Linked DNA regions of Homo sapiens: region 2 is reported to be linked to region 1. Evidence: microRNA targets listed by miRTarBase, many of them from high-throughput screens and not tested one by one. Region 1 holds a microRNA gene; the other region holds the end of a gene's coding sequence.

Region 1 (17,613 bases):
ACACACTTCCTTTGTCCCCAAGGCAGCCTCCTGCTGCACTGCACCACCCATTTTCCAGAGTGTAGGACACTGTGTGGGTTAGAGTGCTGTTGCTCCAGATGCGCCACTGTGTCCAGCCAGCATTGCAATGCTGCAGCCCTCTGGGTGGATGTAGGGGAATGTCAGTGGGGCTTAAGGTTTGTGGAGGTGCAGGTGCTGTTGGTCCCCAGGGCGGGATGTAGTCTGGTGTGGACTGGGCTCTCAGAATGGCATCATGTTGCAGTTATTTGGGTCTTGGGGGTGTTTGGCATCCAGTGCAAAGTCTCTCCCTGAGACAATGCCATCACATAGACTGCAGGCAGCTTTCTATACCAGTCTAAGGGCCCACGAGGGCCAAGGGGCTCACCTACGGCTAGGGTTGAAAGAGTCCTTGGTGCGAACGTGAACCACTAGGGATCTCTTGCTTACCACTTTTCCACAGTGGGGAGCTCCTTCTCTACATTTTTAAAATATAAAACTGTTCTAAAAAATAAAATCAATTTTTTAAAAGGCAAGGTCATGGAGATGAGTTTACCGGAGTCAGACCTTTAATCTGGTAAGATTTAAATAAGTGGAGCTCAGAGACAGAATCCCCATCCCACGATCGCCGGGACCTGGCTCAGAGACAGAATCCCCATCCCACGATCGCCGGGACCTGGCAGCAAAGGAGCTTGGAATACACAGAGCTTTGACTTACCTTTGGGGAGATTCCAGGGGATCTTGGTCTCATGACTGTTTACTTTCTTTTGGATAGGGAAGAAGCCATGGGCTTAGACCATTCTTTCATGAAACAAGATAAATGGGAAGCCCAACATCAATTTAATATGCCTTAGGGAAGAGGGAAAAAGGTTTCAGATAGAACTTGCTTGAAGCCTGGGTTTGCTGCCTGTTAGCTGTTTGTCTTTGAGCACATCACATAGTATCTCTGGATGTATTTCATAGCTTACATTTTACCAGAGTTCATTGGTAAAATGCAAATAATTATATTAATATCTACACATCAGAGGGAGTTGTGAATATTCAATTATATAACTTAGGGAAATGCCCAGAATAGTGTTGACATGTTTTCAGCTACTAACATTTTCTTTTTCTTCTTTTCTTCCCTTTTGATAAACAGGAGAAAGAGCAAATGAGAGGCAGTTGCACTTTTTCAGGTGTCAGGCTGGAGGAAGCCACTTGAAGATGAATCTACCTCTGCCTTAGGATTGCCTGATGGCCTGTGCCATTCCATGTTATATCTACTGATTTGCTCCCTGTATTCAAAGATTTTTTTTTTTTACTTAATTCTCTCTTACTGACCCTGAGAGTGACCATATTTTTAACCAATTTGGTCTTCAGCCTCAAAACTTAGCTCTTTCCTTTTGTGGTCCCCGAATCCTATCACGTGTCATGGTGGCTGTGAAGATGTTTGCCAAGCCTGCTGAGAAGGCTCATCTGTGGCATCCAAAAGCAGAGATTTCAACTCTGGACCCCTGTGACCTGCCTTTGTAATTATGGATACCCAGCACTGTTTTGAAATATCAGTGGACATCCAGTTTTTAAAAGCCCTCAGAGCTTTGGGAGACACCCCTTTATCTCTCTGGCATGTCAGAGAACCGATTCAACCCTTCTCATCTCCTCCTCCTTCCCTCTCTTGGGCCATCAGGATGCGGCAGCAACTCACTGTGCATGTTTTTACAGCTCTTCTCCAGTAATGCTGCCATTTCCACTGCAGACCACAGGATAAAAGGACCGCTTCACCGTGGCCCAGGATACCCTTTTAAGTAGGAGGTAACTATTCAGTTTCGTAGTGGCCCATACATAAACTTGATTATGTTCTTCGTTGCTCCAATATACTATTTGTGTGTTTTGTTTTTTCCAGAGGGAGAAGAAAGTACTGCTTTGATCTAAAATTAAGCAAACGTTCTTCAATAAACCCACCATGAGACTTGACCACTAATGGTGACCAGCAGTGGCTTTGTCATGGCCCTGCCCACTGGGGGCAGGCACATGCCGGGGCCAGGGCAGGCTGCCAGCTGGTGAGCACGAATAGGTGGCTGGTGGAGCGCATGCAGTGGGAAGGGCAGATGGCTCCATTTTGATTTGTTAGCAGGCCACTTCCTCGGAAGGGGCTTTCCCTTCAGTGGGGTCTGCACCGCCAGCCTCAGCTGTCTTGGAGCAGATGTGTATAGTTAGAGATGGGGACCTTTTCACTGTAAATACTGCTCACATGTTCCTAGGCTGACTTTACTATGTGCAGAGCCTCTTCTCAAATATCCAAATCCCCTCTGTTGGGTACTACAGAACAGATGTTACCCTGCCTCCTATTACATTAATTTACGAACTTTACATATGCTGAGTTACGGACCCTAAGCTGTTGCATGTGCTTGGCTCTTATGTTCCAAAAAGTACATTTGTATGGTTTTGTGGAAACTGTGCTGTTCTGCTTTTGCAGTCTGTGAGATTCTGATTTTTTTTTTCTCATCAGCAATTATCCTTGTCTTGGAACATCAGAGCTTGAAGAAAGGGATTCTAGCAGCCCACCTCTCTCCTTCCTAATCCAGATGGTTAGAGGCTTAGAGAGAGGTGGTGGTTGCTCTGAGTTTACCAGATTCAGTGACAAACCCCTTCTAATTTCTAATCAATCTGGCAGCCTTCATTTACCAAAAGTTGACTTTTGATAGTATAACTTTTATACACCGTGAGACAACTTATTTTAAAAAACAGTTTAGAAATATTTAATTTTTTTTTGAAAGACTTTTTAAGGTCAGGCACCATGGGTCATGCCTATCATCTCAACGCTTTGAGGACTGAAGTGGGAGGATCATTTGAGGCCAAGATTTCAAGATCAGCTTGGGCAACATAGTGAGACTCTGTCTCTAAAAAATTAAAAAAAAAAATAGCCAGGTGTGGTGGCGCATGCCTGTAGTCCCAGCTACTTCGGAGGCTGAAGTGGGAGGATCCATTGAGCCTAAGAGATGGCGATTGAGTAAGCCATGATTGCACCACTGCACTCCAGCCTGGACGACAGAGATGTCAGAAAAAAATTAGTTTTATTATTATTAGTTTATAATAATATTATTTTAATATTAATATTATTTAATAATTTCATATTATTTATTATTATTAGTTTTATTATTAGCAAAACTGAGTGGAAGGCACAGAGATTTTCCATATTCTTCCTGCCTCTCCAACAAACATGTCTCCCTCATTATCAACATTTCTTCCCAGAGTGGTACACTTTTTATAATTGATGATCCTACACTGACACATCATCATCACAATGAGTTCATAGTTGACGCCAGGGTTCACTCTTGGTGTTGTACATTCCAGGCATTTGGACAAATGTATAATGACATGACTCCACCATTTTAGTATCATACAGACGAGTTTCACTGCCCTAAAATCCTCTGTGCTCCACTGATACTTACTCCTTCATCCCCTTGCTCCCTCAGCCCCTGACAACCACTGATCTTTTTATTGTCTCCATAGTTTGGTCTTATTTAATATTTTTTGAGGTTGCACTGTTGCCCCAGGACATCGTATGAGTAGAGGGTTAACCACCTTAGCCAAGAGTAATTTGGTCTGGTGAGTTCTCCACCTTCAGGACAAAAGCATTTCAGAACCATCCTAACAATAGTGTTCCCATAAGTAACCAGACACTGTTTGTATCCATAGCAACATGGCTCCATGAGCCCTGCTTCCGAGGAGCAGCTGCCCTTCCTGGGCACTGTCAAGAGTTGTTCTTCTCTGACATCCACACCCTTCTTTACCTGGCACATACCCCAGCCCAGGCACCAGGCATCCAGGGCCTTCTATGGCTGTCCGGATGCATTCCTTCACAGCTGGAATGTGGTTGGCTTGTTGACTTCTGTTCCCAGCATAGTGAACAGTGGGCACTATAAGCCAGTAGGCACTCAATTGATGATTCTTCAATGAAATAATTGATGCCACTTTTAGGTCAGTCTTTCTTGTACGTTACACCTTCTGTTGTTCAACAGAGCCCCACAATATCCCAGAACTTGGAGGTCTTATCTCGGGGTTTCTCAGATGTTGGAGTACCCAGGTATCACCTGCTGAGCCAGTTTCCCTGGCCTCACCTGCAGGGGCTCTGAGTCAGTAAATCTGGGGCAGGCCCAGTACTTTGCATGTGAGCACAGACCCAGGTGTTTCTGAACCTGGTGGTCCAGGGACTGCTGCAGGAAGGAGCCAATAGGACTGCATGCCTTAGAGGCAGTGGGTCTCATCCATCCCTATCTATGGCACTGACTACAGGCCATGTCCAGGCCACATGGGCACATGCTATTATAATTATTTTGTGTGATGGATGAGTTACAGAACTGGAGCCCTAAGACCTGAGTTCTAGTTTCAGCTCTGCCAGTTGCTGGCTGATTGAAACTGAACAAGCCACCTGCCTTCCCTGAGACTGTCTCTTCTCCTGTGAAATTAGGGCATTAGAATACATGAAGACCCCTTTATGTCCTTAATAACCTGTAAGTTTAAGAACCTAGGGAATCTCCATGCTGGTGGCTGCGGTTATATCCCCTTATCCTCAACTCGTGAAGAAAGAGTCAAAAATGGCAGCAGGGTTGTGTCAACTGCTCTCCTCAGCAGCTATCATAAGGGAATTGCCTTTGTCATTTTCCCCAGCCATCACCACACTCCCACACGGCCACCATCACCTAAACCATCTGGCAGTGGGGGTTACCTCCTAAATCTAAGACGCAGAGACCCACCGCAGGCCTTTCTTTCTGGCTGCCCTCCACTCCCACCCAGAGGCTCAGTTTTGCTGGGCTGCACACCTCCGAGGACTCAGTTCTTTGTGTTTCATGTTGTTTCATATCCACTAGTGTTACAGAAACTGCTGCAAACCAGGGACCAAAAGTCCATAGGTTCTAATTCTAGCTGTGACACTAGTGAGATGAGTGACTGCTGGCAAGTTACTTTATCTATCTGACCTCACCTCCCATGTACAAAATTGGGTCTGTATGCACATTTGTGGTTCTAAATCCTGGAGTCCAAATCAGAGTTCTTTGTGCAAAATATACGTAGCTAGGTCCTAACCTCGGAGATCCTGACTCAGTCTGGGGAAAGGCGCAGATCTTGGGGAGAAAACAACTCTCTAGAAGAGTCTCGCCTTCAGTGAGTGACAAGATCTCTCCTGTCTCTCGGTTCACAATGTTACCCTAACTAATCCATCCTCTGATGTCACCTGCTAACAACTTCCCCTGTGGCATCAAACCAGTAGCCCATTTGCAGCTAGTACAAACACTTCTTTACATTTAAGTTTTGTTTACGAGATTTAGCCTACAATCATAGAGGCTGCCAGCTGGGTTTCAAATGTGTATGTTCCATTGCTAATAGGAAAAACTGCATCTATTAGAAAAATTCTCTCTGGGAGCTGAGCACAGAGGCAGGCCTTGTATTGCAAACATTTGAAAAGCCATAAGCAGGTATTCTGGACTGTGTTTTAGATCACCTGAGAACATTTCTTGAACACTAGTATTTGCTTAGAGTGACAAACCTATTAAGTGGTTCTTTCAGGTAAGTTTGCATCCAAGCAATGTCGTCTGAATCGCAGGAGGAAGTCAGGAGTTGTGTCTGGCTTTCTGGCCATACAAATGGCATATGGGAAAGTCATTGTATATTATTAATATCCTTTGATGTATATTATTATGACTTTCTCACGGTAGTAATGTTGTTGGTTTTTATTAATGTTATTTTTATAGCAATGCTAATATTATGAGCTAAAAGTTTCTGAGCATCTGCTGGGTGCCAAAAATTCTTATAAATGCTTTACATGCATTAGCTCCTAACAACACTTTGAAGTAATTCTTATTGTCCTTACTTGACATATACAGGAATAAAAACCTGACCATTAGACCGAGCGTGGTGGCTCACGCCTGTAATCCCAACACTTTGGGAGGCCGAGGCAGGCGGATCACCTGAGGTCAGGAGTTTGAGACCAGCCTGGCCACCATGGTGAGACCCCGTCTCTACTAAAAACACACAAAAAATTAGCCGGGCGTGGTGGTGGGTACTTGTAATCTCAGCTACCCGGGAGGCTAATGCAGGAGAATCGCTTGAACCCAGGAGGCGGAGGTTGCAGTGAGCCAAGATTGCGCCATTGCACTCCAGCCTGGGCAACAAGAGCAAAACTCTTTCAAATAAACAAACAAAACCTAAGCATTTGAGGGGTTTGGCCTGGGCAGTGGAGCTTGTGAGCTATATGAGCTGGAATCTGAGTCAAGGCTGGGCTGGTGAAAGGAGTTCACTCAAGTTCCCAAGGTATTCTGTCCTCCAGGACTCTGAATCACCTGGGAGGAGAAGGAATTGTGGCGGGCCTAACACCTTTTCTTTCCCAAACACCAAGAGCAGGTTCTTTCTGTTACATCCATTGAGGTCACATTCTTGAAGTGCATTTTGAGGAAGTCATTATTTTCGCTACAGCAGGGACTGATGTATCAGTCTATTAGAATTCAGAAAAAAGTAAGCAAACAAAAAACGTGTTGGAATTATTCTCTTCTAGCATTTTGAAATGTACAATGGTTAATGTTAACTATAGCCACCATGATGTATTGAAGACCAGGTCTTATTCTTTTTATCTAACTGTACATTTGTACCCATTAACCTAATGCTCATAGCATCAAGAAAAGATCAATATTTAAGGTGACAAATATCCCAATTATGCTGATTTGATTATATGAATGTGTTGAATTATCATATGTACTCCCAAAATATGCACATCTAAGATGTATCAATAAAAATAAAGACAAAAATTAAAGCTTTTACAGTAGAAAAAAGGTTTTAGAGAAATTATGATTACTTGATTCACCTAAACTGACAGTCTTGCTTGGAATGAATTACTGCTTTTTGTAACATAGTTTTAGAAGAGAGATTCACATTTAATGTTACTTTGTGCTAAGCACTGTAATCCATGCCTGGGTGCTCACAGCGCTCCTCTGGGACCAGGCATCACCATCTCCTCTGTAAAAGGAAGGTCAGCCTGTTGCCAAGACCACAGGATAAACGGCTTGGCTGATTTAGGAAACCCAGTTGGTCTTATGACAAAACATGCGCATTTGCCCTTCACCAGGTGATTTTTCTGTAGGGTTATCTTCAACAGTCCGACAAAGCTGTGTTCCACCAGCTCAGGCAGGCTGTGACCAGGATCACCAGCCATGTGGCATCAGGAAGAAGGGGCTGTGTGGCCAGGCTCAATCTCTGGTCCTGCAGCCTTCTGCCTTTGGCTTTCTGAAGCGAGCTGAACTAGAGATTGGGCCCAGCTCGGCAGCGCAGTTTCAGGAGAGCCAGGATACAAACCATCCCAGTCTCTGTTCCCACAAAGGAGAAGCTAAACCATTTTTTATTTGCCCATTCTAAGTGCTAAGTGATATGCAACTGCTTCACATAAGCCTTCCAGCCTTCCAGCCGACTCTGCTTTCAGGAGATATCCTTATGTCCCTTTTGCATGGCTTAGGAGAGTGAAGCACGTGAGAATTGAACGAGGGGTCAAGGGTCACATAACACATGAGCACGAAACCGGGACTCTCCTGGGGTATCAGACCCCAAAGCCAGTGGTCTGCGCTTGATCTTTGCTAACGTCCGAGAAGCAATAAGTCCAGGGCTCTTGACACATTATTGTGCATTTTACTTTGGGAGGGACTGTGGGTCCACTCTGCTTTTAACAGGAGGAAATTAAATATTTACATTTGATTCCAGTTTGGCCCCATGACTGTCCGGCTTCTTTCCTGTCAAAGGCCCAAATTCCCTGTTTTAAAGTAGAGGGTGAATTTGTGTAATGAGGATGGATCGGGCACGTGTAGAACACACTCTTTCACCTGCAGATTCACACTCCAAACACAAAGAAATACTGGATCATATATGGTATATTTTAAAAGATGCCATAGGCATACTTAAAAAGCACAACAGAATTCTATTTTCTCACGTCAGAGGGCAGAGTCTTATGAGCTATTGAGAGGAAAACTGTATCTTAGGGGTTGAGAGCCTAACGTCTGCTTGGGGGTGTTTGTGGCCCTGGCAGCTGTTGTGTGCAGTGCACATTAGAACTGAGCAGCTTTATAAAGCCAGGAACAAGGGTAGAGTCCCTGTGTCTCTGAATAGAAATTAGCGATGCTTAGCCTTCTGTACCAAGGAATGCATCACAAAAGCTAATGCTGGGACTGGGCCTGGTGTGGGATAGGAGTCACACAGAGGAGTCAGAACGCCAACTGTGGCTGGTGTAAGGGGCCTCCATTCACACTGTCTTTGCTGTTTGGAAAATCTGAGCAAGAATTTAAGGTAAAAGCTGATGTGGAACAGCTTGCAACCCAAAAGTCTCAAGCCCAGCATAAAAATCATTGCTCCAGTGAAGATGCCTGCAGAGCTCAAGGCATTTCTGAGACTCCATGGGAGAATGATTCCTAAGGAAGGTGTGCCCCCAGCACCTGTGGAGACTCATCACCTTGAGGGCAAACAGACTCTGTAAAAGGAGAATTCACCTCTAAGGAGCTGCAGACAATAGAGGGATTAAAATGGGCCTTTGATCATTCAAAAAGCATTTTAAAGGAAAAAATAAAGTAACATAATCCAAATTCCAACAGGAGACTTGAAAAAGAAGGTAATAACAAAATGGAAAATAAAGTCACTGAAATAAAGCAAGTGAGTTGGACTATGAATGTCTCCTGTCCATTAGCTGTGTCCCCGGCTGCAAGGTCCATGGGGACTGTGCCTCCCTTGACCTTGAATCTCAATGCCTTAGCAAAGTGCCTGGTTCTGGGTAGGTTCACAGTACACATGTACCTCCCAAATGGATGGATTGCCAACTTAAATGTTCATAGGAAGGTGCTATTTTCAGGCACTTCAGGTGTGGACATCGGTGTTGTCAGATCTTTTCTGTTCTAGCCAGGCATTGTGGACATCACCTTACTATGTGAGGGAACAAGCTGCATTGGTGGAGAGGAAACCAGCAGGAGCACAATAGTGACCCATTTCTCTTGTCTTATGCACTGCAGTGGAAATAGCCCAGTGTGCATGGTGGATTTTATTATGGTGCCAGTAGAAAGATAGGGGGTTTCCTCTATGAGCTGGCTGACTTACATGAGCTCATTCTCTGCAGCATTTCTCTAGCCATCTCCTGTCACATCGTTTATTGTGTTCACTAGTCCTGTGCTAACGAGGATCTTTGAAAAATGACTGGTATGGTAATGATCTACGGAACTTACTGTAGATAGCAATTAAATATCGTTAACGGCGGGTTACGCTGACACATTAAAAGGCCTACAGGCTGCGATTTATGAAGACAGCTCTGCTGCCTCCTTTGTATGTGATGCATTTCTCTGGTTTCGGCTTAGGCTGTCTGGTCTCAGAAGGGAATGATTTCCAGGCTTTCCCCATCATCACTCCAGTTGCCAGGCCACCCACAATCACATTAGCAAGCTTTATTGTCCCTATTGCACCTCCTAATGCCCTCAGGGTGCTTGAGGTAGCTTTTATCAAGGTAAGGCCTAGGTCAACATTTTGTTGTGCAGAAAAGGCATCTGCTTTCAGAGGAGAAAATTTAGATACAATATTGAGGTGAATCTTATAAGTGATGTAAGATAATTTGATGACAAGAATTGAGATTATATGCTGAGATCTTACTGTCTTAAACTTTGTTGATTTCTGAAAATAATAGAAATGCAATCCTAGCTAAAGGAAGAGAAGTAGTCTAGCTCACCAGTGGCCAGCAAACTCTGTAAAGAAGTATTGCCTTCATGCAGCAATCTCACCTAATATGAGACTCCAGATAGAAGATAGCTCCTGAGAAGTCAAAACACAAACCAATATCATGTAAATTACTCTCACGTGAAAAATAGACAAGAGATAACCAACCCAGTCCCAACCGTCTCACACCCCCACTGGCCTCCTGCACTCATGGATGCCACATTCTTCAACATTTGTACTTCTGTTAACAGAGTTAAAGTAGAGCAAACATAGGCTCTTTTACCAAGAGCGTATGGACTAAATACAGATGCAATGCTAATAACCACATGGGAAAAACAAGATCCTGAGACACTGTTATGTTTTTCTCCCTCTTTTGTGGCCAAGAGTGTGTGCTCTCTTGCCTTTGTAGATTTTGCTCACGTTTTTGGGTGATAGGACCAAAAGCAGTAGTGTCTAGGCCACTAGGAGACAAGGCAAACCATTATCTGTGAAAGCCTGGGTTTTCTGAGAGGAAGCATGCTGGACACTGCCAGTAGAGGGAGAAGTCATGGTGTGAAGTTTTCCATGATGAGAGATAAGGACAGCTAGGGCATGGGGATGCAGAGGATGTTCTTGTTGTTGATGGTGTTGTGGAGGTTGTACCCCAAGTCTCTGGGATAAGACAGCCCCATGCACATAGAGGTCATGAAAAATGTGAGGACCCTGGACACTGAGTGTCACGGCTTTGGGGACAGTGATGACATGTCCCTGTGTCCAAACAGCTCAGTCAGCTTATCTAAAAGGGATGGAGAGTACTTCTGTGGGAACAGTTGGAGCTGAAGAACAGAGAACATTTCCTTTGATGTTTGGACTCTACGGAATCTTTGGGAATTGTGTTCAAGTCCAGGAGGAATGGCTGAAAACATGATTGAGATAAATTTGCAGCCAGGAGGTTGAAGACAAATTAGGATCTGATTTTATTCAACTGGGAGTAACCATGGCCAAGCATAATTCTTCTGGTGGATTCTGAAGTTATTTGGAATTTGCCCATAAGATGAATTTTCCTGAAGAAGGAAGGATGTGGAGGCTGATACTGAGGCCCCATTTCCACATGTGAACTTCTAAGAAACCACAGCTTTCATCCAGAGTGGAGATGAATGGCACTGGGGTCCACGTTGCCAGAATGCCTGGGGACAAGGAATGAGGACTTGTCACCCAAGGCACGAGATCCATAGTGGCTACGGGAATGAAGCCACTGCCTTTGTGGAAATGACTAATTCACCCAAATCCAAGGTGTTTTCCACAACTGAGAGGCCTGGGCTGAGGATAGAGATTTGAGCCTTAACTGAGACATCCTACTGGGAAGTTGCATCAGTGGTCAGTATCTGAGGCCACAGAAAATGTCACATGATGGTGTGTCACAGGGCTCCACATTTAGGACATTTGTGTACTCAAAGAGAATCTTTGACGACCATGACTCAGAGAAATTTTTAATGACTTAAAACAGGTTTTGGATCATGTTGATGATGACAGATGGTGCAAGCCACCTACCTAAATCCCTCTGGGGAGGGGTGGTATTTCTGCATTGTTCTCAGAGCAGAAATGTGACATGGATGTGGAGGCTCTGGACAGTGAGATGTGAAGCTGGAGGCATGGCTTGGCCTCCCTAGAATGGGTGTGGCCAGGGCAAAGCTGGGACATCCTCAACCCAAAGGTTTGCATAACTGGATTTGAACTCCTTATAGATATTCCTAAACAGTGGTGATACGGAAGGGAGAGGAGGAGGAAAAAAGGATGGCTCTTCATCAAGAGCAAAAGCAAGAGATTCAGATAGGAGATTTCACTTGGCTTTTCTAGTCTTGGGTGGGGACCCATTATGGAAGTGAAGAGCTCTGGAATCTTCCAGAGAAACAAGCATGGGTATCCTTTAACAGGTCCCAGATAGCCAGTTACCGCAGAACAATGTCCTGTTACCAGAAGCTTATTGCAGACCTTGTAACCTGAATCATTGTGTTGGCCCAGGGCACACCCAGGAGGGTGGCTTGGGAAGGAGATTCCAGGCTGAGGTAAATACCGACATCTGATTTCCTGACATTGAGTAGGAAAGCATTTCAGAGACAAGCTCCAAGAGCTTTGGAAAGGGGAACATTCACCCACTTCCCACAATTTATAAGGGGGCTGGCAGTGGTTGTTTTGGGGAGGATAATAATGGGAAAAGAGAACGGGGTATGTTATGGCACACAGAACCAAAAATGAAGATTCCTAAGTAGTAATCTATTAGTGAGGGAATTCTTGGGCAATTTCAAAAAACTCAAAACGTGTTACAGAGAGGAGCCCCTTGGACTTTGTAGGAGACTCGTTTGTCTATCTGGCCCCAAGGCCCAGAAGTAGCTGACAAAGAGACCCAGTTGTCCCCTGGATGCCAAACTTGGGGAGAGAATGGTCCTGGGTGGCAGCCCCTCCCCATCCAGCCTCAGTCAGAGCTCTCCAGCAAGTCAGCCTGCAGGTAGCTATGGAGTTGCAGTGTAGTCCTGTTATTAATGGCTTTCTGCTTTGGCTGGATTTCAGACATAAAGAAGAGAAGAAGGAAAGGTCTGGGTGATCTGCCTCTTCTGATAACACTAAAGTTGCACACATCACCTCAGCTCATATTTGATGGGCTGGGACTTAGTCACTAAGCCACACCCATCTGCAAAAGTGCTGGAAAGCGTTGCACTCTCTGATGACCACATGCCCAGCTAAATATTGAGGTCATATATTCCTATATAATAAGACATAAGCAAAGTGCAGTCACTGAGAATCACTAGCAGTTTACACCACGAGTATCTTCACAGCCCAGAAAAGACACTGGGTTGAGTTAAAATGAAAACTGGAATAAATACAATGAGAAGATAGAAAGCCTGCTGAGAACACTGGGGTACTTGAGTGGAACTTTAAACAGTGTCTTTGCTAATGTGTATGGTAACTGTTCAGATTGTCTGTTTCTTTAAGCTAATTGTTTTCTGATTGTTGAAGCAATAATAACTCATATCTTGCTTGAGAAAAAATTAAAAAGTATGAAAAATCAAATATAATTATCACACTACCAAGAGGTATTACTGCTTCCGTGTTGATATGTATTCTTCTTGTATTTTCTACAGATACGCACCCACACAGACACTTTCATGTTTATAATAGAATTCGAATGTATATATTTATATCTTATAACTGGATTTCTTTCATTGAAATAATTTGATCAGGTATCTTTTCTCTTGGATGCGTCCTAACAGTTCTTTCTTTCTCTGATAGAGCCAGATCAAGGAAAGAGACAGGAAAGCAGATGATTTTACCTGCCTTCCCTAAGTGCACTCGGGAAGAGAAGGATCATCTCAAAAAGGGTTAAGGAATGAGATCATGGAAATCACTTACACACGCGGTCGCGGCTTGGACTTGGCTAGTGAGGCCGGCCTGCCCACTCTGCTTCCATTCACTCAGACACAGCTTGGGCTTTTCCTCCAAGTGCTGGTAGCAGTCATTTATGAGGGAGGAAAGGAGCAGAATAAACACACTTCTCAGCTCCCAGGCACTCTGTGTGTGTAGACAGAGGCTCGGGTGGATGAGAAACCTCAGCACACCCATGATCTTTGTCAAGGCTGGAGACTTGCAGTGCACACTCCAGGCCTGTGGAAATGGTTCCACCTGGGTCCCTCTATTGCTCCTCAGCTGCCACATTAGGGCACCTCGCCCAAGTCCACGTGTGGGATGTGCCTGCCTGTGGCCCACCTAACGTATGCAGTCTGTCTGGAGTGCCAGGCACAGGCTCCTCACGTGGGCTTCAGCTGGAATTGAAAACTGCATTTCTCAAGGTCAGCTTTTCCTTGCCCCACAGGCTAGCTTTAGTAACTAGCAATGTGTGTGCACGTGTGTGCGTGTGTCTATGTGCGCACACGTGTGTGTGTGTTAAGTGAGTGGGAGAAAGGAAGGGGAGGGGAGACCCAGCTATATAAGCACGTTATTTATTCCCAAGTCTGTCCTAGTTAGGAAAATATTCCCTAGGATCTCAGTATGAATTAACATTCTTTAAACACACACACACACACACACACACACACACACACACACACACACACACGCCTCGTGCTCTCCTTCTCCTCCTCCTGACATGATGGACGGCAGGCGCAGCCCAGGGGCCCGCAGGTCACGCTGTGTCCACGAATCCCTCTGGGGGCTCTTCTTTCCCTGGGTCCTCCATGAAGGTCTGAAACAGCCCGGACCCTGCTCCCCATTTCTTCCCAGCTCAACCTGCACCTCCCCCGGCTTCAGGCGCTGAAGGAGGCAGGGTTCTTCTTTGTTAAGGATCCAGAGGGCAGGCACCGAGGGTGCTGGAAGGGCTGAAGGGGGTGGAGGGAGAAGCCACCCTGCCACACAGGCTCCCGTCGGCCCCAGCAAGAGCCTCCCCAGCTGCCGGCAGCATCCTGTGATCCCCGGAGAGATTTTTCATGAGGGCTGTATATTTGGAGAGAGAGAGGAAAAGGCAGCTAGCCCAGGGAGGAAGCAACCCCACACGAATAGCGGCTGCATCATAAATATTTCTAGATAGCAAATAGCCCATTAAAAGCCCACATTGTAATGCCTTGGAGGGGGGCTGCCTTTCCCTGCAATACCCCGGGACCGTCGGTAAAGCAGGCTTTGTCATCGTCTGCGTTTTCGCCGCGGCGCTGTCCTGTCTCAGCTCCTCCTGACTCAGCTGAAGGGGGCTGGTGAATAATGCATCACCTAGGGAGAGGCGCTGGGGCTGCGGGGCACAGCTGAGCGTGTGCAGAGGGAGCCCCTCAGGCTTTCTCTCTGTCTGCCTCCATCTTACCGTATCCAGAGACCACACTAAAATGGTGGCTGACGTGGAGACAGAGGAAGCTCCTTTCTAGTTATGGCCACAAGGCAGGATGCTGAGGTGTTGTCTAGGTAAGAAGCAAATCTTAACCTTGGGTCTCCTTTCTGCACATGCAATCCTGTATGGTGATGTCTCTGACGTTCAGGGAGCTAAGTCACAATGCTTTTATGTTTTCAGTGTATTTTATTTATTATTTTATTTTACCTGCACAGCTTCACCCCTAAAGAGTGTCAGGAAATAACCCTTTCTGTCTGCTTTTCTTTTTATAAAAGAATCACATTGCCTTTGCCTCGTAGGCTCAGTTGGATCTCCAAGTGGCGGTACCGTTCTCTCCACTTCAAAAATACACAGAAACATGTGGAAATGTTCTGTCATCCAGAATGAAAAGCATGTGCACCAAATTTTCACAGACCTGATTCGAATGTAGATAAAAGTGCAAAATCCAGAGGAGGGAACACGCTATAGAAATCCTGTCTTCTATACTATAATTTAATCATCGTGTGCCACAGAATGTCTTTGCATAAATTACAACCACAATAATAGCATCACTTTCACAAAAGGTGGCCTCTAATCGATTTGACTCTCCAAGAGATGGCTGGGTTTTTCAAAGCAGAGAAATGATGACCTGCAGTCTTAAAGAGCTGTTGATTGCACCTGGGGCTCCCGTGGCCGGCGCCCATCGAGCAGCCCATCCTGGCTGTTCCCTTGTTCAGCTGATTTTCTTTTTTATCTTGACATTTGCTAACCGCTTGGTTTTTATTTTCCGGGAAGAGAGGATTATTGGCAACTGGCACCACCCCCATGTCTGGAGGAGGGACGTTTCTAGGATGACCCCCAGAGTGGAGAAATAGCCGAGGTAACCTTTTTGCTATAAATTTCTTCCCCTGCCTCCGTCTTCTGTTCCTTTCCTTCCCCCCATCCCTTGAACAAACATGATTTTTAAATTCCCCTCATCATTTTTAGTGCTTTGGAGTCTTCTCAGATGTGGACGAAAACAGTTCGTGAGCTGCGCTGAGCAGTTCCGGAGCCCTGGCTCCCTTTCCCCGGGGCCTAAGCCCCCAAGAAGAGAGTCTTTTTCAGGACCATGGGAGCAGGTTTTAAAAGGCTTTCTATTGAAGCGAGGCCGTCAGCCAGCCGTGCGTGTCCGCATTGTGGTGGTCCCAGAGCCTTATGGACAATCCTTTGAAAGAATAGGGTTGGGAAGATTCTCAGGACAGAAGCGGCTAATTTCCATCCTTGGAGCTTTATCTCACAAAGGATATTTGATAGAAAGAAAAAATGGAGTCTGTGGAAGCTTTGCTCCTATTTCCAAATGGGTTGACTCTGGATGCAAAGGAATATTTTCACATTTTTCCCAATAGAGGAAAGCTTTTAGTGCCAAAATCCTCAAAGGAGAATGAACATCACACATTACACATGTATGTATAAGGGTAGAATAATATGGTACAAAATCCAGTGAGTACAAGCACACAATGGGCATTCAGTACAGGTTAAATGAATATGCAAGAAAAATTCAAAGTTGTTGTTGCTGTTTATAAGGGTGGTGATTATTAATAGATGCAAATGTATACTCCCTTTTGTAATCACAGCAAGGTAAAAGTCTTATCTCTGATCATTACCATGAGGACACTTAAATATTTAGCCCTGGGGACAAAATGGTTTGTAGGCAGGACGTCCTGTGTGTTTATGCACACATAAAATGCCGCCCTGGCCCCAGGACTGCAAGGCCTCTGACTGCATCATTTACATTCAGGGGTGGTCCTGATCAACATGGCCCCATAGAATAATAGAGGGAATTTCAGATAGTACAGCGTTAGATAATAAGCGCTTTCCACTGACTCTGTTTACATGTGGAAATTAGAAGCGCTGAGTGAAAAAGAGTAGTGAAAATAAAGACAGGAAGTATATACACAACAAACAATTTTTCCTCTCTGCAAATCGGATTATTCCCTTGCGCACCCCCTGCAACCCCCATCTATGATGTCAAACTCAATGGACTGTTGAACTAATAGCCTGGGAGTCACCAGCGTGAGAGTGTGTATGTCCACGCTGTGCAACTTGAATTAGGCTGGCCACCACGGCTGTGTACAGCTACCCCAGGAAGAGCCCCTCCCCTCCTCAGCATTTCAGTGGAAAACGTGCTGACTGGGACCCAGCTACAGGAATCACATTTGGGCAGAGAGAATGGCTTATCCTTTTCATGAGGGGTCTTGACTCAAGAACACTTGCCAATTCTGCTTGACCGTTTCCCATTCTTTACGGTTTTTCCTATCACTCCTTAGACTAAGAAAGAAAAATCTGTAGGAATGATTCGGTGGGATTTCTCTTTTGTTCCTAAATAAACCTTATCCCTGGATGAGCTCGTTCACACTAGGGAAGTTACTACCACTGGCTTTGAAGCCAGGCAGATCTGGGTGTTCCTTCCCATGTCTTTATTTGCTTTGTGGGGGATCTTTTCCCAGCCTTTCTGCTTTCATCCTTCTTAGTGAGAGCTTCTTCAGCTGCAGAACAGGGGCAATAATGCCTACCTTGCTGGGTTGCAGCAGAGAATGCTGCTTATGCAGGAAAATAAAAAAACACATAGCACACAATGGGAGCTTAATACATAAGAATTATAAACAGTCTTTTGTGTATATATCAATGTATTTCATGTCCTTAATGTTTATTTAAAGCAAGTACATTCTTTTGAATTAAGCATAAAAAGGTCATAAAATGCCAGAGATGTGCTTATTTGAAATGTTTGCAATGCTTTGCAATTGTTTTAAAATAAGGAGATGATATAACAGGGTGTTACCTCCGCCACTAATTAGTTACGTAATCTTAGATTATGTCACTTCCCTGGGTCTCAGTTGTAAACAGTTGCTTAATAAATAATGTTTGTTTTGCTTTCATCAATAATCCAGAATTAGGCAGTGAAATATGGAAGCTACATTGGTAGGAGCTTCTGTGATGGTCAGGTCCTGGAGGAAAGTGTGAGTTGGAACCTCCACCTTCCTCCCTACCAACGCCCTCCAGAAACACTGCTCACTGGATGCAGGGGCGCTTCTCCTGTTTCTAGTTCA
Region 2 (12,746 bases), not on the chromosome of region 1:
CCTTGTGGAAAATAAAAAAGATCGTGGAACAGTATAACTTAATACATTTTCTCTCTGAATCTGTTATAGTGTGATAACTGTGGCATAGAACCCATCCAGGGTGTTCGGTGGCATTGCCAGGATTGTCCTCCAGAAATGTCTTTGGATTTCTGTGATTCTTGTTCAGACTGGTAAGTGTTTTCTTCATTGTCAGTCTTCAACTTAGACAAGAAAAGAGCTTCTCAGCCATTAGTGAATTTGATTTCCAAACATAGAAAATATTAATACCCACACTTAGTGAATTAAATTTTGTTGTTCTAGGCAATTAATTTTTTTCTGTAATCATACCACATGTCAAGTAACTTTCCGTTGGAGATTTTGATAGATTAATGGATTTAAACAGGGAGAGCTGTGAGGAAGCTTTGTAATACACAGACTAAAATGCATCCACTACCATGTAATGATGTGTGTCTTTTTTTCTTTACAGTCTACATGAAACAGATATTCACAAGGAAGATCACCAATTAGAACCTATTTATAGGTCAGAGACATTCTTAGACAGAGACTACTGTGTGTCTCAGGGCACCAGTTACAATTACCTTGACCCAAACTACTTTCCAGCAAACAGATGACATGGAAGAGAACATCATTTACTAGTCCTCTTCAACACATAGCAATGGTATCATTGTTAATTATGTGCACAGTTTGGAAAGATTCTCTGCTTTCCCAGAAATGACACTCACAGCATGAGAGCTTCCTGAGTGTTCTCGTCAAGTACAGCTCTGCACCGTTGTGGCTCTAGATCACTGTTCAGCAGCTGAACATTCCTGGTGAGCAAAGGTTTCCCTGGTGAATTTTTCACCACTGCGTTTTAGGTGGTGATCTTAAATGGGTGAGATGGAACGAGAGCACACATTAAAGAGAGAGTAAATTCCAAAGGTTTCAAAGAACTTGGTCATAAATATGATAATGAGAAGACAAAGTATTTATATTAAAACAGTTTAGTAGCCTTCAGTTTTGTGAAAATAGTTTTCAGCACAGAAACTGACTTCTTTAGACAAAGTTTTAACCAATGATGGTGTTTGCTTCTAGGATATACACTTTAAAAGAACTCACTGTCCCAGTGGTGGTCATTGATGGCCTTTAGTAAATTGGAGCTGCTTAATCATATTGATATCTAATTTCTTTTAACCACAATGAATTGTCCTTAATTACCAACAGTGAAGCACTACAGGAGGCAACTGTGGCATTGCTTCCTTAACCAGCTCATGGTGTGTGAATGTTATAAAATTGTCACTCAGATATATTTTTTAAATGTAATGTTATATAAGATGATCATGTGATGTGTACAAACTATGGTGAAAAGTGCCAGTGGTAGTAACTGTGTAAAGTTTCTAATTCACAACATTAATTCCTTTAAAATACACAGCCTTCTGCCTCTGTATTTGGAGTTGTCAGTACAACTCATCAAAGAAAACTGCCTAATATAAAAATCATATATATGGTAATAATTTCCCTCTTTTGTAGTCTGCACAAGATCCATAAAAGATTGTATTTTTATTACTATTTAAACAAGTGATTAAATTTAGTCTGCACAGTGAGCAAGGGTTCACATGCATTCTTTTATACTGCTGGATTTTGTTGTGCATCATTTAAAACATTTTGTATGTTTCTTCTTATCTGTGTATACAGTATGTTCTTGAATGATGTTCATTTGTCAGGAGAACTGTGAGAAATAAACTATGTGGATACTGTCTGTTTATATTATAGAATGCTTGTTGTGACTTCCTTTTGGTTAGATTTTGGATTTTTTTTTTTACCAGTGTTAAAACCAGAAATTGGTATTTTTTAAAATGGTTTGCTTCACATATTTAAGAGTTTTCTTTCTGTCATTTATGAAGAATAAGGAATGTATTATGGAAAAGAGGGTGATCTTAAGCAACCCTGTAAAAAATGGTAAAGATTTTTACTCAGTGTGTGCTGAAACACTAAATTAAACTAGCTTACAAAAAGGAAACACGGACCATGGTTAAAGAAAAAGGCAATTATTAATGCTCAGGTGTGAAAACTAAAGTTGAAAATTTTTTTTCTAGTTGTGTCTCATGAAGATAAGCCCCCATGTATTTAAACAGATGGCTTTTGAAAAATCACCTTGTTTCCTGGAAATTACTATTAACTATAGGAAAAGATAGTATAAATATTCTAAGATTGATTGTTATATTTGACCCAATTTTTAGAATCACCTGTTTTTTCCTATTTTAAATCAAGGGAACATTATTTACTAGTTCTCTTCAGTACATAGCAGGGTACTAAAATCATACCCTGAATTTTTTTTAATTGAGAAAAGTAATAGAATTTTAAATATAGAAATATGAGAATTTTAAAGTAATATATTGATTAAAGATCACTGATGATATAGATATAATATATCATAACAGAAGGAAAGTAAATGGACTTGAGCTTAACTTCTCACCCTGGAATTATTAGTGGGTGAAGAGGGGAATCATTAGCATTCTGGGCGTTTTTATATTAAATGTTTTGTGAATATGCCAGAAGATCTGCCTTCAACTTGTAATTAGGCAAGATAGTAATGCTTGATGGTAACTTCTATGTTTGTGTAGAAATAATACCAGTTAGTTTTGGAAAGCCATTCAGATCCATTCAAAAATTCCATAAAGTATGATGTATGCTTTGGAAGAGGGATATGAGTGATACAATTGTTATATAAATGGAATAGACAAACCATTTGAATGCATTTTTCTAGGGCAAACATTTTTTGAGATTTTTGAGTTAAGAAGATTTTTCGGCTTGAGCAGAAGATGTGTTTGTTTTGCATTTTTCAGCTCCAAGGAAACAGCCCCCATGGCTTTAAAAGGCCCTGAAGTTCAGATAGTAGTAGGTAGTGTTTTGTTATTGTTTTAATTTGAGAGTTGCAGGAATAATGGGCAGAGCTGTCATTTGCCGGTAGGCTACCATCTGCCTACATAGAATTATTGGACTGTAAGCTAAAACAGACTGTAAAAGACCTACTTGCTAAAGCATTGCTTATTCAGTGGTATTCAGTAGATAAGATCTATTTCCTGATATATTGTGCTCAAGTTATTTGCACATCTTAAGAAACTTTTAATATCTAAAACCATTGTTGTAAGATTTAGGTAGAGGAGGTTTCCTTTTGTGTGATGCATAATAATAGAAAACACTGATACAGTGTTTACTATGTGCCAAGCAAGCATATGATAACTAATTCTTAACAACTCTATGAGGCAGGGTCATTTATTATCCTGTTGTCATATGAGGAAATCTCGCCAGAGAGAAGTTAATTAACCTGCCCAAGGTCGTATAGTTAGTAAAGTGGTCATGCTTGGATTTTAACCTAGGCAGATTACTTCAGAGTCAGCGTCTGCCTTACTATCCTGTTTCCTGAGCAGGAATTTCCCCTTGTGTCAGGCAACACTAGGTGTTAGGAGTGGAGGTGTGCAGATGTTGCCTTACATTCTGTTTTCCTGATGTGGTGTGCTTCCTAAGAGTACAAACCTGAGCATATGTCCAGGCTTGCAAAGTCTCAGGCAAAGCTGGGACTAAGGCTTGTGTTTCCTGCCTTGGGTAGGATTTTCTTCTATGCATGTTGGGTGCTTCTCACTTAACCTAATAGTATGCCTTGTCTGTTTTCCCCCCTTCCCCTTTTTGTTTAAATTGATTCACAGAACACAAAAATTTACTAGGTATGAACATTTGAAAAAATGGAATAGAGAAAATGGTACATCACATGTAATAAAGATAAATATTGTTTTGTGAAATGTCTTTTTCAATCATAAATATGTGTTGTGTGCTATATAAAACTATTTCTTATTGTGGATATTGAAGTTTGAAGCCTGTTGTTCATCTATAGATGCACTGGATGGGATTGGAAGTCTTCAGATTTCAGTAGGGTTTTCCACAAGCTTATGAAGACATTGTTCTGTTTAGGCTGTAAACTGTTTTTATTTCTTGATGAAAAATGTTCTTCTATTTATATGATCCCAGAAAAAAGATACAACTTTTTTTTTCTACAGTTAATGTAGCTAGTTAACTAGAGTTTTCAGAGTTATAATACATTTAGCTCCATGAGAACAGAGACGATCCATGTCTGTCTGTATCTCTAGGGCCTGGCATTTAATAGATTCTCAATAAATATGTGTTGGTTGTATGACCAACATTTTGGTGAGTTTACATTTTTTTCCTCCAGGAACTTGAGAGACACCACCTATGATTGAGTGTGTCTGTGAGATCCTTAGAGGCCTTGCATCAGAAGGTCATCTTGACAGTTCTGTGAGAGGACAGGGGAATTGGACTCTATCTTACCCAAAGGCTGTGATTCAACCCTGGGTGGCAGAGGTGGTTTTGGTTCTCTGTGGGACCCTAGATAGGCTGTGTATCTTGATTCTCTTCCATGTTTTTAAGAGTAGTGTAATGGGGCTGGGCATGGTGGCTCACGTCTGTAATCCCAACACTTTGGGAAGCCGAGGCAGGTAGATTGCTTGAGCCCAGGAGTTTGAGACCAGCCTGGGCAACATGGCAAAACCCTGTCTTTACTTAAAATACAAACAAATGGGCATGGTGGCACGTGGCTGTAGTCTCAGCTACTCGGGAGGCTGAGTTTGGGGGAATCACCTGAACTTGGGACGTTGAGGCTGCAGTAAGCCGAGATGGTGCCATGGCATAATAGCCTGGGGGAGAACGCTGTCTCAAAAAAAAAAAAAAAAAAAAGCAAGGTAATGGAAAGGACACTGGAGTGAAAATTCTGGGTCTTAGTCCCAGTTGTGGAAGTGAAGCACTCAGTAAGTGTTGACAAAGAACTACCTTTCATTGCACATTAGGAGCTAGTAAATGATTCGTGTGTCTTACTAACTTTTGTTTAATCCTCAGTTCCTCTATGAGGTTCATTACTATTATGTTCTCCATTGTATACATGAGAAAACTGGAGGTGCAGAGAGTATGTTAAATATGTTAGCTCTCAATAATAATTACTGTGTGTGGGACTGGAGATACCAAGCCGTGTCCTTATGGAGGTTATAATCTAATGCAGAAGACCAGCAATAAGTAAGTAAATAAAAACTATTACTTCAATTCAGGCAGGGATAAATGCTTTGAAGATAAGTAATGCTCAGAGAAAAATAATAATGGGAGAATGGGGAATAGTCTGCCATTTTAGATGGAATAAGCAAAGAAATCCTCTATTGGCCAGGGTAAATTCAAATAGAAACCAGAATAGAGCAAGGGAATTTGCTGCATGAATAATCTGTAGGAAGGGGCAGAAGGATAGCAGTAGCACACGGGCCCTGAGCCAGTAGACCGTGGCTTGTTCTGGCAACATTAAGATGGCCAGAGTAGCTTAAGCCAAATGAGCAAGAGGAGAGTAGTAGTTGATGGCGTCGAAGAGGGCACAAGCCAGCTCAGATGTGGCCTTGAAAACACATCATTGTAAAGGAGTTTAGATTGTGTTCTGATGTCTTCTACATACACACAGGTCTTTCGCTAGACAGAGACCTCTAAGGTCTTTTCCAGTATTAAAATCTTATGACTTTAAAGTAGTGATATCATTTCAAGCCATTCAAATCAGTAATGTGTTCTAGAGAAGAGTTGATTTGCACTTCTAGATACTCTTCAGGGGCAAAGCCATTTACCCTTGCTAAATTTTTCAAGGTGGCTGTCAGCTACAGCCGTAGAAGCCTGTAAAAGATGGCTGGACCTTTCTGCCCCTCTGCTGTCTCATTTTCCTTACCTGTGCAGTCAGAGCTGTGCTGGGCATGGACTGTGTCTGCCAGTATATGGTATGTGTTTCAAGAATGTCAATCCCTACAAAGAGTCATTTTATGTTTTCTGGCACAACTGATGATTTTCATCCTGTAACCTTTTTTTTTTCCAGTTTGCTCAGGTACTTATTATGCTCCCCGATAGAGAGTGTGACAACTTGGGGTAGTATTAAAGTATTTGACAACTGTTGGGAGTTATGGGAACATGCCCCTTTTTGTTAATAGAGGCGTAACTGTAACCAAAGAAATTTAATTTCTTCTTTAGCAAACACTAACATTTCTGTTTCAGAATGAGTGCTAGAGAAAGAGGAAATATGACAGTTACCATGTATCATGAATACATTGAGTTCTCTCTGTAATAACTCAAAACTGATCTATAGCTAAAATTAAAACCATATAAGCGTATCGTAAATCATCTTGACTATTTCTGTGTTCGCTTCTAATTCTGTTTGGAATAAGGCTTCAAATGCTTTCCAGAATGATGTGAGTTACAAATAAATAGAAAAAGAGTTATCCTGTCTTCCATTTATTTTATTTGTACATATCCATTTCAAGAAAAAAAAATGACTTAAAAAATACAATTCTATCCCAGAAATGGATCCTTATCTGCACAGCCATTGAAGAAAAAAAAAAAAATTCATGCAAACTGAAACTATGCTTTTTTGTAGTGACTGAGTGGAAGATGCAGTTATTCCAGTAGAATATATAAGCAGCTCTGATTTTACAACTGATTGATAGCACAAAAGAGAACCCAAACTTCACTGGTTTAATGCAAGGAAACACAGTTTTGCATATGGGTATGACAAGGTTTGCAAACTCCTGGAAAGGGCCCATATGAAACAAACACATTGAACACACCACTTACTGACATGCCCCTCCCACCCACATCAGGTTTGTTAGGGTATTTTTTTACTTGCTTGGCAACAAATAAATACATGGGTGACCATTTAAAATCAAAATTATAATTTGATATGTGCCCAATGAATGAAATAGCAAATATCTCATGCTTTTAAGTTACTTTTGGTCATTTATATTAATTTATAATTGCTGAAATGCATCACCATGTAGAGAAGAGACTAGGTTACACAATTTATCAGATTTGTTCTCTTAGCCATGACGACAGTATTCCAAGTTTCTAAAAAATAATAATAATAGAGAAGGTTACTGATGACTAACCTGGGTTTTACCATCATCTTGGGAAAGCTATACATCTTCATATTTTAAAATTTCTGTCAAATTTTACTTGCTTGATGCCTCTATATCATGTACAAGGCATTGTGTAATCAACCCACCTTATGGCTCTGAGCCACCAGTGGATGAGAGTTGACAAAACAGCCAGACACCAAAGGAAGATGCCCAGGGCTGTCCCCTATGCCAGGGGCCTCCATTGGGGAACAGTATGTAAGAGGAAGGTGTGACTGGGGGTTAGGGATGCTTAATGAGAGGAGAACCAGATGATCAGGGTCTAGCAAGGCCTGTGATCACAACGGACACAGACTGGCACCGCACCACTGTTCATGTACTGACTAGCTCTGAGTGTGGCCTGCATGATACAAAGTGTGTGTGCCGTGAGTGCAGACAGTTGTCTGAAGTGTGGAGAATAGGTTGATATAGTCCCAAATACACCATGCATGATTTCCAGACACCTCTCACACAGGTCTAGCTGGGAAGCAAACAGTGCTGTCAGGATTTAGGAGGTGGTGGTTGGTGGGGGCGGTGACACAAAAGGTTTAACTTGAAACATTGTGTTAAGGAATGAACTTTTTAATGTTTTTCTGTTTCCATTCTAACAAACATGCATTTTTGCCTTCAGAAAATAGAGTCAATAGCTGTGCAGAGTTGAAGAAAAACGTCCTCTGGTGTTCCCTCTGCATTTATCTATATTTAAAAGGAAAAAAAGAGAGTTAGTCTGAAATATCTGTAAATCATGTTTAATAATGAAAGAACACTATCACTTGCTCATAATTTGCTCTGCAAAATTTTAAAACACAAGACCCCCCCCAAAACACAGAGAAAAAAGTGAAGAGTAGTTTTAAAACTAGGTGTCTCAATTAAAAAAACAATGAAGTACCACTACACATCTATTAGAATAGCCAAAATCCAAAGCACTGACACCGCCAAATGCTGGTGAGGACATGGAGCAATAGGAACTCTCACTCATTGCTTGTGGGAACACAAAATGGTACACCCACTTCAGAAGACACTGCAGTTTCTTAAACTGAACATACTCTTACCATACTTTTTAGCAATTGCACTTCTTGGTGTTTACCCAAATGAGCTGAAACCTGAACATCTACCCAAAAACCTGCATATGGATGTTGACAGCAACTTCATGCATAATTGACAAAACTTGGAAGCACCCAGGATGATCTTCAGTATTTTAATGGATGGATAAACTGATATATCCAGATGGACAGGGGAATATTATTCAGCACTAAACTTAAATATATATTACTCAGTGATACAAGCTCCTCTGAAGAGGGTACATATTGTATGGTTCCAATTATATGACATTCTGGAAAAGTCAAAACTGGAGGCAGGTTTAAAAAGATCAATGATCGATGAACAGAGGGCGGTGGGGGGTGGGATGAGTAGGTAGAGCACAGGATTTTTAGAGCAGTGTAACTAGTATATGGGAACTCTATGCCCAATTCTGCAGTGAAGCTAAGACTTCTCTAAAAAGGAAAGTCTATTTAAAACAATAAGTGCCTATTTAGGTAAAACATTGCTAGGGGTCATGGAAAGACTTCGGAGTTACTTAAAATGAGACTTCTGAGTGTTCTGCAGCATTTGGGAATAGGGGAGAGATTGAGGGATGAGGGAGAGAGATGTGGAGAAGAAAGCAAAAGACTAGGACCGCAGTGTGTAGGTGTGCTAAGGTAGAGTCCGCTTGGAGACTGTTGGCATGCTAGCCCAAGGAGGACATATGAAGGGAAGCTGATTTTCTGGGCACGAAAGTACTGCCCCTTCTCCTCTCCTAACGCACCCACCGCTGAGATTTGTTCCATTACACCTGTATCATCTACAGAAAGTAAAGGCCTGGCCAAGCACGGGAAGCACCTGGGAGGCCAGGGAAATGCTGGTGGTATGCATCAACTTCCATGAGTGTCACCCAGGTTACTTTGGTAAAGTTGGTTATGAGGCATTACCTCTTAAAGAGAAACCAGAGCTTCTGCCCAACTCTTGACCTTGACAAATGTGGACCTTGGTCAGTCAGGAGACATGAGTAATCACACGCTGACAAAAAAAAATAATAATAAATAAAACAGGCTGGAGCTGCTCCCATCATTGATGGAGTGCTATGGGCTACTGCAGAATTCTGAGGAAGGGAAACTCCCAAAGTAGCCTGCTGTCACGAAGGCCAAGTTCTTCGGCAGGAGAGCTGGGAGAAGATTAAGGGTGTATATGTGGGGGGAGGTAGGGAGGCTGTGTTCTGGTGGCTTCAAGCCACAAGGAGGGAGCTTAACTAAATGCTAACAAACGAAAAAAGGAAAAAAAAAAGGTAGAGGGTTGGTGATCTACATGAGTCATGTGGGGGGCGGGCGGTGGTAAGCTTGCTAAAACACAGCTTTCCAGGCCATAACTGCAGAGGGTCTTGGTTGGTGGGTTTGGGCTGGGTCTTTAATCTGTATATTTAACAAATTCTCCACATGATTTTGTTGTGGGCCATCTTGGAGCACACTTTGAGAAACACAAAGTTTTCAAACACACATTTACAAGCACACTTTGAGACTCTTGTCTACCTATTTAAATCTTCTTTGTGCAAACTAGTTTGAATTTTTCTTCCCCTAGGGCTTTCACTGCTTCCAGAGGTAGAGTGAATTCTCAACAATATCAACAAAAAGAATGCTGCATGTTCAGATAGTGGAGAAAATGGATACAACAATATTAACGGAAGCACTGTTTGTCGTTCCCCAACTGGAAAAATCCTGTATGTCCATTAGCAATAGATGGATAAATTGTGACATAGTCATATAATGGAATACTATAGTAATTAAAAGAAAAAGAACCACAGCTATCTTCAACAACATGGATTAATTTCACAAACTTGAGAGACACAAGCCAGTCTCAAGAATATGAATACAGTATGGTTCAGTTTATATAAGGTTCAAAAACAAAGCTATATTGGTTAGGGATCCATACATAGGCAATAAAGTCATAAAGAGAAGCAAGGAAATGATTATCACGAAATCCAGGACATGAGTTACTTCTTGGGGAGAGGAAGGAAGCTGTGACAGGGGAGACATATGGGGAGGGTGGAGCTTCTGCAACTCTCTTCTATTTCTTTTCCTGCATGGTGGTTACATGAGTGTTCATTTTATTCCTCAAACTCTACATACTACTTTTATGCATTCCTGTATGTATGATATAGCCCACAATAAGGAAAAAATAAGTTTTTTTAAAGTTCTTTTTCCCCTCTCATAAATATACTTCATCCTTACAGGAGACTCAAAGATAGCAATCTGCAATTTGTCTGTCCAGCTACAGGTTCTACATCTGGATGGTAGGGGCTTTGCCTTTGCCATGTTCATGGCCCCCACAGCACCTTGCTTATTGCTTTACTTCTTTCTTCTTTTCCTTTCAACCAACAAGCATTTCCTGGTTATCATCAATGTTTTGCAGTTAACCAAGTTGAACGAGAAACAATGGTCCTGTTTTCCAAGAGCTCACGCTCAGTGGTAGAGATGAACATTCAACAGGAATTTACACTGTTAGGAGATAAGCACAGGAGCTATAAGGGCACCTTCCATAATGTGGGGAGGGCAGAGAAGCTTTCTGAGGAAAGTAATAATTGTCATCATTTAAAATGATAAATATTACTAGTAATGGCACAGGAATGCTTTTTAAATAACCAAAGTAATCCTATCAATGATCTTAGAAGTATTGTTATCCCAGTTTTACAGATGATGAAACAGGGGCTCTGAAAGATGAATTAAATTTTTTCAAGATAATGTGGTTAAGTAAGTGGAGAGAACTGGTTCACACCCAGGCCTTTGATTCTGAAGTCTTTGCACGTGTTGACTACATTACACTATGCTGACCAGTTCAAAATGGTGGATGGCCAGATATGAGGGGGAGTAGCAAGGAGTGAAGCTGGAATTGTAGGGACAGGCTAGGCTATGAAGAGGCTTATGTACCCTATTGCATGACGATAATGAGGAACCACGTAAGAATTGTTTTTTTGTTTGTTTTTTGTTTTTTAAAACAGGGTCTTGCTCTGTCACCCAGGCTGGAGTGCAGTGGCACGATCTCAGCTCACTGCAACCTCTGCCTCCCAAGTTCAGGCGATTCTCCTGCCTCAGCCTCCCGAGTAGCTGGGATTATAGGTGTGTGCCACCATGCCTGGCCATTTGTCTTTTTAGTAGAGATGGGGTTTCACCATGTTGGCCAGGCTGATCTTGAACTCCTGGCCTCAAGTAATCTGCCTACCTCAGCCTCCCAAAGTGCTGGGATTACAGGTGCCCAGCCCATGTAAGAGTTTTTAAGGAATGGGCTGACATCATAAAATATGGGTACACAGCAAATATTTGATAAATATTTGTTCCATCAAAAATAACCGCAGAGGCTGGGCATGGTGGCTCACGCCTGTAATCCCAGCACTTTGGGAGGCCAAGGCGGGTGGATCACGAGGTCAGGAGATAGAGACCATCCCGGCTAACATGGCGAAACCCCGTCTCTACTAAAAATACAAAAAAAAAAAAAAAAAATAGCCGGGCATGGTGGCGGGCGCCTGTAGTCCCAGCTACTCGGGAGGCTCAGGCAGGAGAATGGCGTGAACCCGGGAGGTGGAGCTGACAGTGAGCTGAGATCGCGCCACTGCACTCCAGCCTGGGCAACAGAGTGAGACTCCGTCTCAAACAAAAACAAAAACAAAAACAAAACCCAAATAAAACAAAAAAACTGCAGAAAGGTTGAAGTGCAAGGCAAAGAGCCCTGTATGAGGCGTGCCTGGGATTGCCCTCAGTGTGCTTCAGGACTTGACAGGCCATTCATCCTCTTGGGGCCTCAGTTTCCTCCTCTATCATATGAAGGGACTGAACTAGGACTAGATAACCTCCAGGTCTGGTTCCAGCCTGGATGTTCTATGCTATTCCAAATCTGAGCTCACTTTTTAGTGGGGATGAGCTCCTCTCAGCAGGTGTCAGGATTGTTCAGTTTAGTTTGGTGTTGCCAGTTAAGCTCGGCCTAGAAGAATAGACATGTACTGGAAGATAATAAAGGTGGCAAAGGTGTAGAGATCTGAAAGCACATAGATTTTTCAGTGAACAGTGGGTCATTTGTTGAGGACAGAGCAAATGCTGCATGGGGTGATGGGGGCAGGCAGATAAAAAGAGGAAGCTGGAAAAATAGGTTGGAATGAGGTGTCGCCATAGATTTGCCTACTCAGGACATTTTATATCAATGAAATCACACAATATATGGTCTTTTGTGACTGGTTTCTTGGCATAATGTTTTCAAGGTTCGTTTATGTTGTAGTGGATATCAATACTGTATTCCTTTTTATTGCTGAATAATGCTATGCTGCATTTAACCCGAATGTTCCAAACATGCCTTGGGATGTCTGCCTTCCTCATCTCTTTTCAGCAAATCTGTTTCTGCCCACAGCCCACTATACAGTCACCTGAGCTCGCCTTATCAAACGCTGGGAGGAGGGAGGAAAGGAAGGGGTTGCTAACTCACATTCCCGCCCCTTCTCAAGTTTCCTCCCCTGTAGCAGGGACGGGTAAGAAGGTGTAAATCCACAAACGCTTGATTTATTATTTACACTGTCCATGATCGTATCAGTGGAAAATGCATCAGGTCTGTCACTGGTCCCCAAGAAGTTCCATGAGGACAGACTCAAATACAACTCTTCTGTGCATAATGTAAGTTCTTCACCCTAGTGATCCAATTTTTTGTCTTTGGCACAAACACTGCCCCAAATCAGCTCCATATCTTCCCCAGAAGAGGAATATAATTAGCCTACGGAATGAT

Evidence for each region. Region 1 holds the annotated microRNA hsa-miR-7158-5p (GGCUCAAUCUCUGGUCCUGCAGCC, at 7,212-7,235, shown strand). A microRNA usually pairs through its seed, bases 2 to 8, with sites in the 3' UTR of a target mRNA and lowers its output. Matches are read on the target gene's strand: a 7mer-m8 pairs with bases 2 to 8, a 7mer-A1 pairs with bases 2 to 7 and ends in A, and an 8mer does both.
Region 2: the mRNA of ZZZ3 is a reported target of hsa-miR-7158-5p. Seed matches in the 3' UTR shown: 7mer-A1 at 2,788-2,794.

Annotation. Positions count from the first base shown.
Region 1 is chr2:5,967,451-5,985,063 of GRCh38, forward strand. MIR7158 (microRNA 7158) reads left to right here and starts at 7,212; the gene lies at 7,212-7,282. It overlaps SILC1 (sciatic injury induced lincRNA upregulator of SOX11), which reads left to right. Exons shown (of 2, transcript NR_026832.1): 2 at 1,136-12,768. LOC400940 (a long non-coding RNA gene) reads left to right here and starts at 14,528. Exons shown (of 3, transcript NR_026833.1): 1 at 14,528-14,622; 2 at 14,848-15,407. RefSeq lists enhancers at 6,779-7,280, 8,160-8,813, 13,289-14,035.
Region 2 is chr1:77,553,505-77,566,250 of GRCh38, reverse strand. It overlaps ZZZ3 (zinc finger ZZ-type containing 3), which reads left to right. Exons shown (of 15, transcript NM_015534.6): 14 at 70-170; 15 at 467-3,835. The coding sequence ends at 611. It overlaps AK5 (adenylate kinase 5), which reads right to left. Exons shown (of 14, transcript NM_174858.3): 14 at 6,285-7,649. The coding sequence ends at 7,581. Among named protein-coding and RNA genes, the nearest start is that of ZZZ3, 120 kb to the left of the region's middle. RefSeq lists a silencer at 12,353-12,647.